4 linked regions of the Homo sapiens genome follow. The protein of the gene in region 1 interacts with the protein of each later gene in a pairwise test. Each region holds a gene or a part of one and is shown in the gene's direction. Other genes may lie near its edges. The genes, in order: PAK5, PECAM1, FAM124B and AP1M1.

Evidence for each region.
Region 2: the proteins of PAK5 (region 1) and PECAM1 interact in binary tests that used the Homo sapiens proteins (3 or more experiments, as listed by UniProt).
Region 3: the proteins of PAK5 (region 1) and FAM124B interact in a two-hybrid assay, tested with the Homo sapiens proteins (one large-scale study listed by IntAct).
Region 4: the proteins of PAK5 (region 1) and AP1M1 interact in a two-hybrid assay, tested with the Homo sapiens proteins (one large-scale study listed by IntAct).

The regions. Positions count from the first base shown.
Region 1 is NC_000020.11:9,579,668-9,584,473, reverse strand, and holds part of PAK5 (serine/threonine-protein kinase PAK 5), read left to right. Parts: intron 1-3,543; coding exon 3,544-4,329; intron 4,330-4,806.
Region 2 is NC_000017.11:64,373,105-64,377,910, reverse strand, and holds part of PECAM1 (platelet endothelial cell adhesion molecule precursor), read left to right. Parts: coding exon 1-87; intron 88-2,554; coding exon 2,555-2,860; intron 2,861-4,806. UniProt on the Homo sapiens protein: Cell adhesion molecule which is required for leukocyte transendothelial migration (TEM) under most inflammatory conditions.
Region 3 is NC_000002.12:224,394,752-224,399,557, reverse strand, and holds part of FAM124B (protein FAM124B), read left to right. Parts: intron 1-4,806.
Region 4 is NC_000019.10:16,224,959-16,229,764, forward strand, and holds part of AP1M1 (AP-1 complex subunit mu-1), read left to right. Parts: intron 1-1,462; coding exon 1,463-1,589; intron 1,590-2,589; coding exon 2,590-2,732; intron 2,733-3,178; coding exon 3,179-3,250; intron 3,251-3,811; coding exon 3,812-3,970; intron 3,971-4,806. UniProt on the Homo sapiens protein: Subunit of clathrin-associated adaptor protein complex 1 that plays a role in protein sorting in the trans-Golgi network (TGN) and endosomes.

The DNA.
Region 1 (4,806 bases):
AGGCGTGGTGGTGAGTGCCTGTAATCCCAGCTACTGGGGAGGCTGAGGCAGGAGAATTACTTGAACCCGGGAGGCGGAGGTTGTAGTGAGCCAAGATCATGCCACTACACTCCAGCTTGGGTGACAGAGCAAGACTCTTTCTCAAAAAATAAAATAAAATAAAATAAAATAAGTGGTAAACAGGGAAGATACAACTGAAATGAAATAGGAAGCTGCTGAAAGAGACTTGATATTTTTAAGGCTGAGTTATAGCTGTTTCATCTTTCCTCTGCCAAGGCTGCTCATCTTTTACTCTTCACAGTTATTGTTTCTCCCAAGTTAATCTGTGGGGTGAGGATGGATGTTGTTCCTCTGAGGAAAGGTCCCAGGTTATATACATGATTCTTTCTTTCTCTAAGGGAGGCTCCAACAGAGCATCCCCTACTTTGGCAATCAATCCATCAATTTATGCACCACCCTCAACAATGACTACATTCCATATAATGAATTCCACACTATGGAATAAAAAAGGAATAGGCAAAAAAAAGACTAGGATATTAGTTTATGAACACTGACTATATTATGCTCAGTGAAAGAAGTCAAGCTGAAAGGCTCCAGACTGTATGATTCCATCCATATGATATTCTGGAATAGACAAAACAATAAGGACAGAAAACAGATCAGTGATATCAAGGGTTTGGGGAGAGGGTAATGTTTGACTAGAGGAAACTCAGGAGATATTTTTGCAGCTGGTGGCACTAATTTGTATGGCACTCTAACAGTGAATACATGATGCTTTGCACTTGTCAATACCCATAGAGCTTTGCAGCACAAAGAGTTAATTAATGTACGTAGTTTCAAAAAACAACAAAAAATAAACCAGAAGATCAGAGGATCCTGGGATAGAATGCAGAATGTGACCAAAGAATCCAACAGCTATACATTTATAACATAACCTCATTGAAGGGGGTGCAGGAAAAAAGACACTAACTTAAGGAACTTTGGAAACAGTGCTTTGAATGCAAACTATAAGTGTAAAGGAATTTTAAAGAACTGGACTTAAACATGGTACTTGAGTTGACAAAGTTGTTTCTCATGGTAGAGTGAGTTAATCTGAAACTGCTGAACAGTTATACTAGCACTGAATAGGCAAATGACTGGCAGATGGTGGGGCCCATGTTTTTTACTGTTGCAGAGGAAGTTACAGGTAAGGAAATGGCAAGAATGAATTATGTGGTACTTGATTAGATTCAGAGACATTAATGTGGATTTATGTTTAGGTTAATATAGATACAGATGGATGGATATAATTATAGGTGTGTGAGTGTGTTCATGAGTTAGTCTACAAACATATTATTTCGGAGCTCTGTTTGCTGAGGCCTGGCAATGACACCCAGTAGCAATGAGTATTCCTGGAACCAAATCTTAATTTCTAATACTATTAGCGTTCCTTGGAGAAATGCCTGATTTGGGGGGAAGGGCAGGGAAAATAAAAGATAAACCTGGAGCTTCTTGTAGGGACAGAAAGTAAGGAAGTGCTCAAAAAATAAAAGGAAGAGGGATCATCAAAGGGACACAGCAGCCAGCCTGAGAGAACTCCCAGTGACAAAAGCTGGAACCATTTGAGCAACAAGGCAAATAACAGAGTGTTGGCTTATAACCCAAAGTATAAAATAAATAACCATAAGTCCATCCATCCTTATATATAAATAAATGATTGAATGAGTAGGTAAATGGGAGCAAATAAGCAAGTCTCCTGTGCAGAAGAATTCCAACTACTTTATATAGATACCCTACCCCCACCACACACACACACCCAAGAAGATAAAGCTTAAATCCCTGACCCTTGAGTAGACGCTACACTTACTGACTTGTTCCCAAAGAATACAATATACAGAAAGCTAGGGAAGGGGAGTGTGACTGTGTGTATAAGAAACCTGGAAAATATGACCTCACCCAGGTAGTCAGGGCTAACATCATCATTCCTAAGTCGTGTCGACGATATGTACCCTAAACATTATGCGATGAAATGTGACTTGACTCTCTGATCTTCCTCCTCAAACCAAATAACCTCTGTTTAAACATGGGAAAAACACCAGAAAACCCCAATGGAGGAACATTCTCCAAAATACCTCACCAGTACTCCTCAAAACTGTCAAGGTCATCAAAAAATAAGGAAAATCTGAGAAACTGTCACAGATCAGAGGAAACTCGGAAGATATAACAAATAAATGTAATGAACTATCCTGGATGGGACTCTAGAACCCTAGGAGAAAATTAATGAAATCTATAGGAACATGGAGTTTCCTTAATAGCAATGCAAGATATTAACTCAAGGGGAAACTGGATGAGAAGTCTATGAGAACTCTGTATTCTCTTTGCAACTTCTCTGTTAATCTAAAACTATTCTAGAATAAAAATTTTATTTGAAAGAAAAGGGTATAGTACAAAACTATTAGTCCAGGACTCTTGGAAAGAAAAAAAATAAACCCTTTGTTTCACCATGGATAGATCTATAAAACATCAGCTCCAGGACAACTTTGACTTCTTCCTCCAGTTTGAAATCTTCTATTGTACCATCCAAGATAGTTTTGAACTCCTTGCTACTTGCTCAAAAGTATTTTTCTCCTAAAATCCTGGAAGTCTGAAGTCACAACACTTTGTTCTTTGTTCTTTTATCCACCCCCATCATATTTGCCTGCAAATCCTGTCATTGTCAAGGCACGGCTGACGGGCTTTGTAAGTGGTTTGCGATGTCTTTCAGTTCCTGGTATTCTTGTGTTATTTAGGTTCATTAAAGGGAACAATTTGTCACTAAGATCCAGGTGCAACCATCATTACTAAGCCATCCAAAATTCAGCGGTGATGTTACACAGAAGTGTGGCCATAACAAACAAGCAGTATAGTATAAGTATATATACTTAATAAGAATATCACATTTGATCATAAATCACACAAATAATCTTCAGTCTGTTTCCTAATTACAGTTTCAGGAAGTGCCTGCCTCATCCATAAAATTTCATAACCTCAGTTATTATGTCTTCCATATAAGGGCAAAAAATGTACACCCATTTCTAGTTATGTTAATAGTTGGGTGATAATGCCTTCTGGTTTTGAAAATCATCTGAATAATGAATGTAAAACAGTAATAAATATTATTTTTTATTACCAAACAGTTATAGAGTGTTAAATTATAATTATCAGCTCATCATTAGGTGGTTAGGGCTTATTATTTAGGTAGAAGAAGTAGGGGGAAGGGATTTGCCTGTAAACTGGTAAATAAAACAGTTATATTCTATGTAGTCTCCTACATGGCTTTTTGATGGTTATTTGATGTCTCTGTTGAGATAGGTAAGAAGAAAAATGCAATTTGAGATTGTTTACTATTTGATTTATTTCACCACTGAAGTCAATCAACACATTTTCTTTATCATTTTGTGTTAAGTGTTCCCGGGGTCTTTTTTCTTCTGTAGTTTAATTTGGATGGAGTGGGGGTGGGATGCCACCATCAATTTAAATCCATGAAATATTTTCTTTAAACAATATTCCCTCTATTATTCCCAGACAATCGTTAGAGGAAACAAACCCTGCAAGGAAACCTCCATCAACGGCCTGCTAGAGGATTTTGACAACATCTCGGTGACTCGCTCCAACTCCCTAAGGAAAGAAAGCCCACCCACCCCAGATCAGGGAGCCTCCAGCCACGGTCCAGGCCACGCGGAAGAAAATGGCTTCATCACCTTCTCCCAGTATTCCAGCGAATCCGATACTACTGCTGACTACACGACCGAAAAGTACAGGGAGAAGAGTCTCTATGGAGATGATCTGGATCCGTATTATAGAGGCAGCCACGCAGCCAAGCAAAATGGGCACGTAATGAAAATGAAGCACGGGGAGGCCTACTATTCTGAGGTGAAGCCTTTGAAATCCGATTTTGCCAGATTTTCTGCCGATTATCACTCACATTTGGACTCACTGAGCAAACCAAGTGAATACAGTGACCTCAAGTGGGAGTATCAGAGAGCCTCGAGTAGCTCCCCTCTGGATTATTCATTCCAATTCACACCTTCTAGAACTGCAGGGACCAGCGGGTGCTCCAAGGAGAGCCTGGCGTACAGTGAAAGTGAATGGGGACCCAGCCTGGATGACTATGACAGGAGGCCAAAGTCTTCGTACCTGAATCAGACAAGCCCTCAGCCCACCATGCGGCAGAGGTCCAGGTCAGGCTCGGGACTCCAGGAACCGATGATGCCATTTGGAGCAAGTGCATTTAAAACCCATCCCCAAGGACACTCCTACAACTCCTACACCTACCCTCGCTTGTCCGAGCCCACAATGTGCATTCCAAAGGTAACGTTTGCTACCTCCTTTCCCTCACGTGTGCAAAAACCTCCACAGGGGTGGTGCTGGCACGACCTTTTTATACGATTGGATTGTAAAGTACTTGTTTGCCTTTTAAGGGAAAATCAATATCAAAACCCACCCTATCTCCACTTGTGAGGCCCCAGGGCAGAGGTTTAGGATAAGGCATATATATTCATTAAAATAAAAATCTATCTTTTGGGCCCTCCTACGTGGTTTCTCATTAAAAGGCGAATAAACTTATTGATTTGAAAGATAGAATTCTGATATATGAGTGATAAATATGATGTGACTGTATTTGACTAAGTTCCCTGTTAAGGAGTGGATCAGTCATATACAATCATAGAGCATTAGATCGAGCCATCCAGTGGTTCCTACATCCTGGCAAAGTTTGCATAGACCTGCTAAAAAGGAAAGAAACTCAGTATAACATGGTAATTTTTAAATAAAGCCAATTTTGTTCAA
Region 2 (4,806 bases), on another chromosome or scaffold:
GGATCTATGACTCAGGGACATATAAATGTACTGTGATTGTGAACAACAAAGAGAAAACCACTGCAGAGTACCAGGTGTTGGTGGAAGGTGAGTCCTTGGAACTGAGCACAGGCAAGCAGATGGAGCATAGCACACAGTGGCGTGAATAACAGCTGTGAATGAATAGTGACACTGGACTTAACTCTCCACCCATCACCCTCTCATTCATCTGCCTGGCATTTTCCTTACCTGAATACGTAAGCACTAGACATATTCCCAATAGGCCAGGCCCTTCCTTCCTTCCTTCCTTCCTTTCTTTCTTTGATGGAGTCTCACTCTGTCACCCAGTCTGGAGTGCAGTGGTGTGATCTCGGCTCACTGCAACCTCTGCCTCCCAGGTTCAAGCGATTCTCCTGCCTCAGCCTCCCAAGTAATTGGGATTACAGGTGTGTGCCACCACACCTGGCTAATTTTGTATTTTTAGTAGAGATGGGGTTTCACTGTGTTGGTCAGGCTGGTCTCGAACTCCTGACCTCAAGTGATCCACCTGCCTTGGCCTCCCAAAATGCTTCTTCATCTCGTCTCATAAATTAAAATTTCTTCTTCAAGACTCAACTCAATGATGTCTTCTCTTTCCAAAACAAAATGGGTCTACCCCAGGGTGCCAGTCAGTACAGCTCTGATGCTCTCTCTACATTCAATGGTATTTGTGTGTATAAAGGCCACAGCGGTGTGTTAAGACACCTCGTTCTGCAGTCACTCTGCCTGGGTTTCAATCTGGGCAAGTCCCTTAACAGCTCTAAACTTCAAAATCCTCACCAGTAAAAGGAAGATAACAACGATACCCATTTCAGGCAATTATTGAGAGGGTTAAAAGTGTCATGTGGGTAGAGTGCTTAGCAAAATTTCCAGCACCTAGTGAGTTCCTAATAAATAGAAATGTATTTATTTATTTTGAGACAGAGTCTTCCTCTGTCACCCAGGCTAAAGAGCAATGGCGCGACCTTGGCTCACTGCAACCTCTGTCTCCTGGGTTCAAGCGATTCTCCTGTCTCAGCCTCCCAAGCAACTGGGATTACAGGCACGCGCCACTGTGCCTGGCTAATTTTTTGTATTTTTAGTAAGGATGGGGTTTTACCATGTTGGCCAGCCTGGTCTCGAACTCCTAACTTCAAGTGATTTACCCACCTTGGCCTCCCAGAGTGTCAGGATTACAGGTGTGAGCCACCATGCCCGGTCCACAAATATTCTATTTCACTCAGTATTGCCATCCATTCTTACACATCTGTCTGCTCTTCTGGATAGTGAAATTGTAAAGACAGAGATGGTGTTTGGTTTATTCTTATATCTTGAACAATGAATGTGGCTCATAGTAGGCATTCAGTCAATGTTCATGGAATAAATTAAAGTCAGTCCTAGCCTGTGGCTGCATTCAATAAAGGGTAACAACAATCACAGTGACACTGACAAATACTGGCTACCTTTCCCCTCTAAGCATCATCTGTTGGGAATCTGATTGTGTCCTCTTCCCAATAGGATTATAAACCATTGAAAACACCAAGTACATCTTGACCATATTTTATTTTTTAAATTTATTTATTTATTTATTTATTTATTTATTTATTTTTAGACAGAGTCTCACTCTGTTGCCCAGGCTGGAGGGCAGTGGCACGATCTCAGCTCACTGCAACCTCTGCCTTCGGGGTTCAAGCAATTCTCCTGCCTCAGCCTCCCAAGTAGCTGGGATTACAGGTGCCTGCCACCATGCCCGGCTAATTTTTTGTATTTTTAATAGAGATGGGGTTTCGCCATGTTGGCCAGGCTGGTCTCAAACTCCTGACCTCAGGTGATCCACCTGCCTCAGCCTCCCAAAGTGTTGAGATTACAGATGTGAGCCACCTCGCGTGGCCTTAGTGGTGATTTTGGTGGACCCATCACCCGAGCAGTGTACACTGTACCCAGTGTGTAGTCTTTTATCCCTCGCTCCCTCCCACTCTTTCCCCTGAGTCCCCAAAGTCCACTGTATCATTCTTATGCCTTTGTTTCCTCATAGCTTAGCTCCCATTGAGCATATTTTATATTTTTTCCTTTCTTTTCTTCTCTTTTTTGAGACAGGGTCTCTGTTGCCCAGGCTGGAGTGCAGTGGTGGGATCACTGCTCACTGCCGCCTCAACCTCCTCGGCTCAGGTGATTCTCCCACCTCGGCCTCCCAAGTAGCTGGGACTACCAGTGCACACCACTAACTACCCCTGGCTAATTTTTAATTTTTTTTTTTGTAGAGATAGCATTTCACCGTGTTGCCCAGGCTGGTCTCCAACTCCTGGGCTCAAGAGATCCACCCACCTCAGCCTCCAGATTTTATATATTTCAAAGTGCCTAGTACTGTGCTGGGCACATACCTGTTCATTTATTACCTGGTAGGTCGCACTGGGTGTTCAGAGAACAAAAAAGAGCCCTCTCATGGGTCAACTACAGTCACTCAGCGGAGGGAGGCTTGTGTCTCTCAATCAGGCTGATACTGACAGACTTTCTCTTCAATCAGGCTGATACTGACAGACTTTCTCTTTCCCCGTAGGAGTGCCCAGTCCCAGGGTGACACTGGACAAGAAAGAGGCCATCCAAGGTGGGATCGTGAGGGTCAACTGTTCTGTCCCAGAGGAAAAGGCCCCAATACACTTCACAATTGAAAAACTTGAACTAAATGAAAAAATGGTCAAGCTGAAAAGAGAGAAGAATTCTCGAGACCAGAATTTTGTGATACTGGAATTCCCCGTTGAGGAACAGGACCGCGTTTTATCCTTCCGATGTCAAGCTAGGATCATTTCTGGGATCCATATGCAGACCTCAGAATCTACCAAGAGTGAACTGGTCACCGTGACGGGTCAGCATCCTGCTCCCTTCCTCATCGTTCTTTGTGGTTTCTGGTTTGGTATGGGGAGAAAGAACCCAGAACTGGGAAGGGGCTGCTGTTCTCAGGACTTAAGACCTGTTCTTAATCATTTTAAGCCAGTATTTTTCAAGCTTTTTTGACTGTTATACAGTTAAATTGCATACAATTTTTCAGACAAGAGTTTCACCAACAACACTTTACTCTTAATATATATGATGCTTTTTGTTTGTTTGGCTTGGTTTTTGGGGTTTTTTTTTTGAGACAGAGTCTCGCTCTGTCGCCCAAGCTGGAGTGCAGTGGTGCAATCTTGGCTCAGTGCAGCCTCTGCCTCCCGGGTTCAAGCAATTCTTATGCCTCAGCCTCTGGAGTAGCTGGGATTACAGGCATGCAGCACCACACCTGACTAATTTTTGTATCTTTAGTAGAGATGGGGTTTCGTCATGTTGGCCAGGCTGGTCTCAAACTCCTGATGTCAGGCGATCCACCCGCCTTGGCCTCCCATAGTGCTGGGATTACAGGCGTGAGCCACCACCCCAACCTTGTGTGTGTTTTTGAGACAGGGTCTTGCTCTGTTGCCTGAGCTGGAGTGCAGTGGCATGATTTCAGCTCACTGCAACCTCCGCCTCCCAGGTTCAAGCGATTCTCCTGCCTCAGCCTCCTGGGTAGCTGGGATTACAGGGGCATGCCACCATGCCTGGCTAAATTTGTATTTTTAGTATAGACAGGGTTTTACCATGTTGGCCAGGCTGGTCTCAAACTCCTAACCTCAGATGATCTACTCACCTCGGCCTCCTAAAGTGCTAGGATTACAGGCGTGAGCCACCGTGCCCAGCCTATTTCAGTCTTTAAACACTGGCCATGACACACTACACTGATGCATTATGTGATCTGTAGTTTGGAAGCCACTGCTTTAAGCCATCGAGGGTCAGACACCAGGAAGTTGGGTTTGGAGGGGATCGGGAGGAAAGAGGGGCCAGGTCCTCAGCCTTGGCCTCCTGTTGTTCAACGTAGATTTGCGTTGGACAAACAGCAAACAAATGAGGTGGCCTGGGAAATGCTCCCAGGAGAGAAGGAGGCAACAGCAGAGGGAAGCTGGGGAGTGTCCAGGACATACAGGGCTCTAGGACAGGTAGTCAGCCACTCCCAGGACCCGGTCTCATTTGCCAAGCCGGGAGAAGTCAGGGGAAGGCACACCCATGTAGATATTTGCAAATATTTCCAAAATAGGAAACTTACATTTTGTCATAAATGGTCCCCTTCTTTTGGCATCCCACTTTATCCTGCCCATTGTGTGTATGTGTGTCTGTATGTTCTATTATCTGATTATAAAATCATGTGTGCTCTGGGTAGAATTTTCAGACAAAAGAGCAGGATATAAAGTATGTATATAAAGTGACAATCATTTATAATGCCTCTACTTAGAGAAAACCACACATGATCCTCTAGACTTTTTCTACATATATTTATATATCATATACACACCCAGCCACACACACACACACACACACACACACAGAAAAAACATCTTTTGTTTTTACAAAAGATGGGGACCTATCACACTATTTTACAGCTTTTTAAAAACCAGACAAAATCTTATGGACTTTTGTCCATATGAAGAAATATAGATCTATCTCATTTTAGAACTCAGAACTTGACTGTAGGGATGGGCCATCTCTGCAACCCTCAAACTCCTGGGCTTGAGTGATTTACCTCATCTTCTGCTGATGGATATTTAGGTATTTTTCTCAGTGTTTGCTATTACAACAATCCTGCAGTATAGATATTTGTACTTGTAACTTGTGTACTTTGGCAACTATTTTACTATTATTATTTATGTGGTTAATTCTTAGTAGTCAAATTGTTGAATCAGATGTTTTGTGCATTTTCTTTTTTTTTTATTTATTTATTTATTTATTTATTTATTTATTTGAGACAGA
Region 3 (4,806 bases), on another chromosome or scaffold:
CCTGTGGCTTCTGTCCTTAAGAAATGGTCAGAAGCTCCTTAAGGCCTATTGAATAAAGTAATAAGAGACTACAAGATGAGATGTCTTTCCATTTGGTTAATTTTGTTGTCATCACTTTGACTTGTTAATAAAACATGAATCATATTCCATATTAAATGATTTCTAAATTATTCACCTTCTTGCTCACATAAGGTAGACAGGCACTGTTTCTGTTAGTTGCCTATTATAAAACCCCATAATTTCCAAGGCATCTAAAATTTCTTTCAGTTTTAGCGACTCTCTAGTACTTAAAATCAACCTCATGGTCAAACAAAAATGTAATGTGTGTGTGCAGCAAGGGACATGATTTTAATCATTCCTGTCTTTAAGGCTGACTGACATTTTTGCTATGGAACCACAGTTTAAACAACTTAGTTACTTTGGAAAGTTGAGTCACATTTGGGGAGTGTAGAAGAGTTTTTTGGATAAAGAGAAACTCCATGAATTGTATGAAAAGAGCCCTCTTCCTCTCTGGATTGTCCCAGGAGCCTGGCCACTTCTCAGGTGTGAATGGGGCATCAGCCCCTCACTCTTTTGTTTTTGAGACAGAGTCTCTCTCTGTTGCTCAGGCTGGAGTGCAATGGTGTGATCTCAGCTCACTGCAACCTCTGCCTCCCGGGTTCAAGCAATTCTTGTGCCTCAGCTTTCCCAAGTGGCTGAGACTACAGGTGCCTGCCAACATGCCCAGCTAATTTTTGTATTTTTAGTGGAGATGGGGTTTCACTATGTTGCCCAGGCTGGTCTCAAACATCTGGCCTCAAGTGACCACCTGCCTCAGCCTCCCAAAGTGCTGGGATTATAGGCATGAGCTACCACGCCCAGCTGCCTCTCACTCTTGATAGCCCCCTTGGACATCACCTTTGTCCTGACCTCCAAACCTCAGAGACTTCTGCTTCCTCACTCCAAAACACGCTTTGATCTCCTCTTGTTAAGTCAATGAGTCTAAGCTTTTGCAAACAGAGTGAGAGATCGCCTTCTGGAAAATTCTGCTTCTGGTGTCATATAATAAAAGTGCCTGAGGAAAGTGTGTAAAGGCTCAGCCATAATCCAAAGACAACACATTGTAGCTCCTAGATAGCTTTTGATTCTTTGAATGGAGTGAATTTTTCAGGATAGAAAATTCTTGGGCGTGGTGGCTCAGGCCTGTAATACTAGCACTTTGGGAGGCTGAGGCAGGTGGATCACTTGAGGCCAGGAGCTTGAGACCAGCCTGGCCAACATGGTAAATCCCCCTGTCTACTGAAAATACAAAAACTAGCTGGGCATGATGGTGTGCACCCGTAGTCCCAGCTACTCGGGAGGCTGAAGCAGGAGAATCGCTTGAACCAGGGAGGCAGAGGATGCAGTGAGCCGAGATTGTGCCAGTGAACTCCAGCCTAGATGACAGAGCAAGACTCTGTGTATTAGTCTGTTTCACACTGCTGATAAAGACAGGCTGGAGACTGGGAAATTTACAAAAGAAAGAGGTTTAATTGGACTCACAGTTCCACGTGGCTTGGGAAGCCTCACAATCATGCAGAAGGCAAGGAGGAGCAGTCGCATCTTACATGGATGGCGGCAGACAAAGAGAGCTTGTGCAGAAAACTCTTGTTTTTAAAACCATCAGATATTGGGAGACTCATTTACTATGAGTGAATTAATTCACTGTTCACTCATGCCTTAAATAGCACCCCAGTCACCTCTTGAATGCTTTGCTGCTTAAAAATTTCTTCTGCCAGATACCCTAAATCATCTCCCTCAAGTTCAAAGTTCCACAAATCTCTAGGGCAGGGGCAAAATGCCGCCAGTTTCTTTGCTAAAACATAATGAGAGTCACCTTTGTTCCAGTTCCCAATAAGCTCCTCATCTCCATCTAAGACCACCTCAGCCTAGACCTTATTGTTCATATCACTATCAGCATTTTTGTCAAAGTCATTCAACAAATCTCTAGGAAGTTCCAAACTTTCCCACATTTTCCTGTCTTCTGAGCCCTCCAGACTGTTCCAACCTCTGCCTGTTACCCAGTTCCAAAGTCGCTTCCACATTTTCAGGTATCTGTTCAGCAATGCCCCACTCTACTGATACCAATTTACTCTATTAGTTTGTTTTCACGCTGCTGATAAAGACATACCCGAGACTGGGCAATTTACAAAAGAAGAGGTTTAATGAACTCATAGTTCCATGTGGCTGGGGAGGCCTCAAAATCATGGCGGAAGGCAAAGAGGAGCAAGTCACATCTTACATGGATAGCAGTAGGTGGCAAAGAGAGGGCTTGTGCAGAGAACTCTCATCTTTAAAACCATCAGATCTCATGAGACTCATTCTCTATCACGAGAACAGCACAGGAAAGACCCACTCCCATAATTCAATCACCTCCCACTGGGTTCCTCCCACGACACATGGGAATTGTGGCAGTTATAATTCAATATGAAATTTGGGTGAGGACACAGCCAAACCATATCACTCTGTTTCGAAAAGAAGAAAAGAGGAGAGAAGAGAAGAAAAGAAAAGAAAATCCAGCCTAAACTTCCTTGGGTCCTGGGGAGAGGGGCTGGGTAGCGAGTCTGGCTTCTGTAAGTGAGTAGTCCAGGCCTTACACAGTGTGCTCAGGATCCAGATCCCAGCTCTGTTATCACTGTCTTGGCCCTATCCTCAGCCAGGCATCCGCCAGGGTCGCCAGCTGGCTGCTAGCAGCTCTGAGGGTTACATCCTTCATGTGGATTCCAAGTGCCTTGCCCCACCATGGCGCAACAAAATGTCTGGACTTCAGTTAGACCAACTAGGATCAGATTCTCTTCTCTAAATCAATTATTACGTGCAGGAAAGTGAGATTATATGGATCAGTTTAGCCCCGAGGCAAAGGCTCTGGCTTCTACCCCTAGATGCTGTGTGGTGTTCTGTGGGACTTTTAGGGAAGGTTGTGGGTCTCCAGAGAAGATCAGGGCGGAGGAGACAAATACAGAGTGGTCCCAAATGGCTGATGTTCAGCAAAAGTAAGAAAATTATACCTATTAAAGGAAGAACCATAACCACAAACTAACCTCTCTGCAGACCATCCCTCCACATGGCCAGGATGGAGGCGTGTGTGCAGAAGACCTGAGTGTGAGGGGAGCTAGGCCGAGGAGGGGCAGTGAGAAAGCTTTCCTGAGTAGCAATGCCCAGATCTGCGTGAGCTGGGTGGCCCAGGAGGAATTAGCCAGTTGGAGAAGGGAGCAAGGGTGTCTCAAACAGGTGACCGTGGGTGACGATGTTGGTGTGGTGCTGCTTAGCAGGCCATGCTCAGCAAACTTCCTGAGGTTTCATGTGGCTGGAGTGAAGGGAGGGGGAGTCAGGGGAAGAGGATGGGCAGGTGGCCTGAGGCTAGATCAGTGGGAATGTGGTCAGCCACTGGAATGTAAGTACCAAGAGCGGGGGGACTTTTTGGGCTCACTCCTGTGAACCTAGAACCTAAGGTCAGTGTCTGGCACATGGTAGGCAAAAACATCCTTCTACAAATGAACCCTGGCTAAGTAGCTTCTATTCTATCCTTGGTGAAATGAGCAGTCACTGATGAGTCCTATGAATGGAACTGACATGGATTATTTGTGTTATGAGGGTCAAATGAGAGAATGTACATGGTGGTGCTTGGTAAAGTAGAAGCTCCTGGAGACCATGTAACTGCGGTGCAATTGTGATCTGTGCATGTGAGAGGCTGTCAGCTGTCTCTGCCAGCGCGCCCAGTGAGCAATGCGTTTTCCACATGACCTCTTGCCATTGCAGACAGTCTGATGCCTCTCAGAGTCTAGAATGGGTGGTTTTGATGACAGCGATATGAGCATATCAAATAGATGTTCAGTAAATGAATGTATGAGTACATGAGAAGGCAAGTCCATGTTTATTCATTCCTCAGAACTTTGTTGAGTTCTTGCTCTGGGCCAGACATTGTTTTTCCTTTGGCAGTTTTAATTCTGCTGTCTCAATTCTTAGTGGGTGCAAAATGATAGTGGGTTCAACCTTCCCTTTATTCGTTCAAACAGTCCCTCTGCTTTTCTCCCTGTGCTTTTGCCTCTGGTGGTAGTGACAGTGTCAGTGTGTTCTGGGGGAAGGTAGCATGGGTGATGATGTCCGCCTCTTTTTTTAAACCTCCTGCAACTTAAACTGTGCCCTCAGTCAAATTAGCTATTTTGTCAAATCAACCACATGCTGCAGTATCTCTAGTCAACTACTGCTGGCTTTCAGCTTTCCACAGCTGAGACCCGTGTCCAAAGTTGTATTTTTTGTACTTTTTATAGATTTTTTTTCAATTTTTTGCATTATGGCTCTTCTCCCCTGATTCACCTGCTGATGCATTCATCTCCTGCCCTCCTCCTGGCAGGGGCAATCCAAGGGTAGAGTCCATGACTTTGGTGTCAGGCTCTGGCAGACTCTAAATTCCAGGTCACTGAGTTAGCATTGGTGATCTTCTCATTCTGTTTGATGTACAGTAGGCAAACTTTATAAATTAAATGATAAACCTCCCTCAAAGCCACTTGAAACGCTCAGCAAGGTCTATATTTCATGGCCCTGTGGGAGATGTGACAGCCATGATCTTGTTAGCCTTTGGGTGGGTGTTCTGTGTGGTATCACACTGCCCTGGTGGTCTAATGAGGAGCTGGACCCTCCTGCAAGCGCCTGCAGTACCAGGCAGCCTGCAGGAAATGCACTGTAGAGCTGCAGCCACCCACCTTGTGTGTAGGGAAGGAGAAGGTGAAATTGACTGAGGATGTCAAGTAACATGGAGGAAGTGTGACTTGGGGGATTGACTGAATG
Region 4 (4,806 bases), on another chromosome or scaffold:
CAGCAGGGAGAGAGAGAGAGAGACAAGCAGGCAGACGCAGGGAAGCTGTTGTGCACCATGGGATCAGGGAGCCGCTTGCGAGATGAGGACAGGACAGCACGAGGAGGTGAGGCTGGGGAAGGTGACAGAACCGGAGCCCTTGGGGCCATGTCCGGTTCCCTGCCCCTCCCAGGGCTGTCATTTGCTTGGCACCTCAGTTTTCCCAATTCCCTCAGAGGCGGCAAGCTGGTGAGGGGCTTTTGTTTGTCTACCCAGTGCTTTTTGGACATCATGCATAAGACTGCACAGACTCTCCTGCCACTCTGCAGACAGGAAATGCAGGCCCTGCACATGTTAGCCTGGCTGGAGCCAGCATCTGGGCCCAGGTATCCAAGTCGGTGGCCTTTGGCCCACTTGCTGGTGTGAGCATGGCCTCGTGCAGCATAGCAGTGTGCAGTGGTGGCCAGGGCTGCAGCCCCAGCGATTCTTCTGCCAGTCACTCTGTGCCCTCAGCACGGGGCCTCTGATCTGTGCCTGTTTCCTCACCTCTAAAATGGATGCAAGAAGAGATGCTCCAGCATCTTGGCTCACGCAGGACAGGCTAGGGGGTGCAGGACCGTCGCCCCGGTGTGGATTTTCAGTTGCACTTTCAGATGCATCTCGGCATGCGCAGTGGGTTACAGCCCCTCAGGTCATCTCCCCACAGTCCCTGCCCCAGAGGTTGTCGAGGCGTGTGTGGAGCAATGCCTGGCGCAGTGGAAATGCTGTCAGTGTTAGCCACTGTGACTGGATTTAAGTTGATTATTTTGGATCAAGTGTTATCACACTTCAGGGTGGCCCTGAGAAGCAAGAAGGGGTCAGGACTCAGGAAGCACCATCTCTCATAAGCCCTGGGGGGTGAGGGGCCAGTGGCCTCCCTGGGAGGCCAAGAGGAGAAACAGCTTTCAAGAAAAGCAAGTCTGGCCTGGTTCAAGAGACCCCAGCCCAGCCCAGCCCATCGGCTGAGCAGGGACCACAGGGTCCTGGCCCAGGTCCAGCCGAGCTCATGGACTCTCAAAGCTGACTCAGCGTGGGGACCAGCTGCCGGGCCGGCCCGGAGCATTCAGGGGGCTCCTGGGAGGGAGGGACTGGTACCTGATAGAGAACCCTCAGAGGGGGCTCCAGGCACGCATCATCAGGTCCCAGTGTGGCCTGAGGCCTAGAGGGCAGGACCCACAGTGTCCACCTCATGTCCACAGGGCCTCGGCATGAAGGCTGGAGGGGTGAGCCTGGGGACCCTCAGCCAGGCGTGGGTTGGTGTGGGTTAGGGGTAGACCTTAGCCACAGCTGGGACTCTCCCAGCTCAGGGGATGCCCAGGAGAGGGATGGGCTTGGAGGTGAGAAGGGCGTTGAGAGTGGGGTGGCCAGAGGGTCACATGATGTGGTAGGAGGCAGTGGCTGGTGAGTTGGGGACCTCCCCTCACGCCCACACCGCCACCCCCAGGTCAGCGCCAACGGCAATGTCCTGCGCAGCGAGATCGTGGGCTCCATCAAGATGCGAGTCTTCCTCTCGGGCATGCCCGAGCTGCGCCTGGGCCTCAACGACAAGGTCCTCTTTGACAACACGGGCCGTGAGTACCCTTGCCAAGGGCCCTGCCCATGAGGATGGCCTCACCAGGCACACACATTACAGCCTAGGGCAGGGTTGGGCCAGGCGGAGGAACGAGCTGGTTTCAAGCACTTGGTTGAGCAGCACTTCACACTGCTTGAGACAGCTGTGTAGAGTATTCATCCTTCCCTGGACATAGAAGGTGCAGGGGAGTGAAGATCCTCCAGTCCAGCTGGGAGGCCCCCGTCACCCGGCCTCACACGCCAGGTCCTGCACCCTGCCCTGCTCTGCCTGGGGCACTGGGGCCTAGGCTAAGGCCTTGCTCTCTCCCTCCCAGGCCAGGTTTCTCCCCTCACCTTGGGCCCTAGGTGTGGGCCGTGTGAAGGCCACGCATGGTGATTCTCGCTCCCGCCGCCTGGCCTCTAACACTTCCCACAGCAGGGCGGGGGCAGAGGGGCCCAGGGCCTGGTTTTGTGAACTGTGCCTCCCACTCAGCTGTCACAGGCCACTGGAAGAGGGTGCAGTGGCTGGGCATGCCCCCGTTCCTAGCCCGGTGAGGGCTTCTCGGGCATCAGTCTATCAGGGCAGCTCCCCGCCTGGGGCTGGGCAGGGCCCCACCCACATAGCCCTCAGTGAGGTGGCAAACCAAGGTAGGACCCAGGACCCCGTGGATGCCAGGGCCTGAGCCCTTGGGGAGCCCCGAGCCATCCCCCAGCCAAGTCCACTGATCAATCATTCAGTGAACGTGTCCTGAGCAGGTCCCCTGGCTGGGCCCTGGGATGGCCGCTGGGGACTCAGCATGAACCAGACCCACCAGCCCTGCCCCTGGGGACCCCAGGGGTGTGAGGAGTGATGGGGCAGTTGTCTTGGGACCCAGCCCCCTTGGTGTTTGTGGCCCAGGCTGCTCTCAGTGCGTGGACTGGGGGCCCTGCTCTGCCGGGGTGGGTTGCAGGTGGTAGGAGTACTGCTGAGATAGTGACCCGGAGGGCCCAGATCTGTCCTACCCTCACCCCTGACCCCAGGCGGCAAAAGCAAATCCGTGGAGCTGGAGGATGTGAAGTTCCACCAGTGTGTGCGGCTATCACGCTTCGAGAATGACCGCACCATCTCCTTCATCCCACCCGACGGCGAGTTCGAGCTCATGTCCTACCGTCTCAACACCCACGTGAGTGCGCCACCCTGGGGCTGGGCTGTCGGCAGACTCCTCCTCCCCTTCACCTCCAGGAGGTGAAGCCCAGGCAGGCGCCAGGGCCAGCCCCACCCCACGCTCCATGAGCTGCCTGGCTCTGCAGAGATGGAGTCTGAGGACTTGGGACTCCGAGCTTTCTGAGGGGCACAGACCCCTTTGGCCACCACCACCCCTTTCCCAGGCAGCCCCCAGAGCAGGCCCTGGTCATGTTTTCTGCATTTGCCCCAAGGCCTCCCCGGTAGCTCCCGGCTACCTCGGCCTGTCTGCCCTGGCCCTCCCTGACGCTGGCTGTACGCTCCCTGCAGGGCTCTGGGCCCACACCTGGGCAGATGGTCCCTTGCCCTGGGCCTTGGTTTCCCCTCTGAAATGGGCCTTTGTCAAACAAGGCCAGGTGTGAGCACCCTCTTTGCCCTCCTTGGCAGGTCAAGCCTTTGATATGGATCGAGTCGGTGATCGAGAAGCACTCCCACAGCCGCATCGAGTACATGATCAAGGTGCGTGGGCCGAGGCCACCCACTGAGGGCCTTCTGGTGTCTCTGGCCCGTCCCAGGAGCCTAACCGAGGGCTGGGGGTGCCGTAGGGCTGCCATCCGTGCACCCTCACTGTGGCCTCAGATGCAGGAGTGACCTGACACTGAGGGGACACCGCCTGGGGCCTGCTCCTAGATGGTGCCACTTGTGGGGAGGGGCCTGTAGCCAGGCATCCAGGACACTCCCAGAGGTGTTGCCCCCAGGTGGAGCACCTCTGCCCCTCAGCGACCCTGTCCAGCGCAGCCTGGCCCTGGGACATAGACATTGTCCTAGGAGGGCAGGGCAGAGGGAGGGATGAGGAGCCTTGGAAGCTGAGCAGACAGGAGGATGAAGATGAAACTCCTGAAATTAGGTCTTGGGAGAGTCTCGAGGGCAGGAGAAGGGGTGGGTAGTGCCTGGAGAAGTGGGGCCAGGGGCGGGGCTAGGGAGGATCCCCCGGGCCAGGCTGAGGGGCATGTGTCCTGGAGAGGCTGGCCAGCTCACCTTGGCCTCCATAACCCCGGGCCGCATTGGCCTGGCCTGCAGGCCAAAAGCCAGTTCAAGCGGCGGTCAACAGCCAACAACGTGGAGATCCACATTCCCGTGCCCAATGATGCCGACTCACCCAAGTTCAAGACGACGGTGGGGAGCGTTAAGTGGGTCCCCGAGAACAGCGAGATCGTGTGGTCCATCAAGTCCTTCCCGGTGAGCACTCTGTCCAGACATCCACGTGCCCCCTGCGCCTGTCTCTGCAAGGCAGCCTGGGTGCCTCAGGACCCCCTGCACCTCAAGATGGGGTGACAGTGGCCACTGTGTCTTCCACACCTGGGGCTTCTGAAAGGGTGGACGGAGAGCTGAGGACTGGAGTGGGAGGAAGCAGAGGCTGACTCGGCCCCTGGGCCCCTTTCTGCCTTCCTCTTGTTTGTGAACCAGCCTCTGTCTTCACCTCAGGGCAGTGCCCTCTCCCTCCCTCTCTGTGATGCCCCTGAGTACTGATGTGAGATGGGGCTCCTGTCCATGCAGGCCCTGAAGGAGCCCCGTCCACACTGGCAGGTCCAAGGCCCTTTCTGTGCAGGCTCAGCCTTGCCTGCCATCAAGGGGAACGGCTGCCTGTAGGCCGGAGCAGCACAGCCTCCAGAGCTCCGCACCAGCCGCCCATGTCCTGGGCCAGCTCTGCATCGGCGTGGCTTCCCTGACAACATGTTAAGGATTCTGAGGAGCTGAGTCTGGGCTTGCCGGGTGTACACAGTGCACAGAGAGGCTAGGCCCAGGCATGGCTCTGGAGCTGAGCCGGGTGGCACTGACCTGCTCCACCAGGGGGGCTCAGGGCAGGCGCTGCTTTCCATGTTCTCCCCTCTCTCTCCATCTGCATCCCAGGGGGACTTGGGGACAGCCCCAGCTGAGTTAAGCTGGAAATGCTGCAATTCAAGTGCCTTGAATTTCATGATGGTACTTTCCCTCCCAGCCTCAGTCTAATCACATGACATAAAATACAGAAAGTAGAGGAAGGAGAGAGAAAAGCCAGTTACCCCACCACCTAA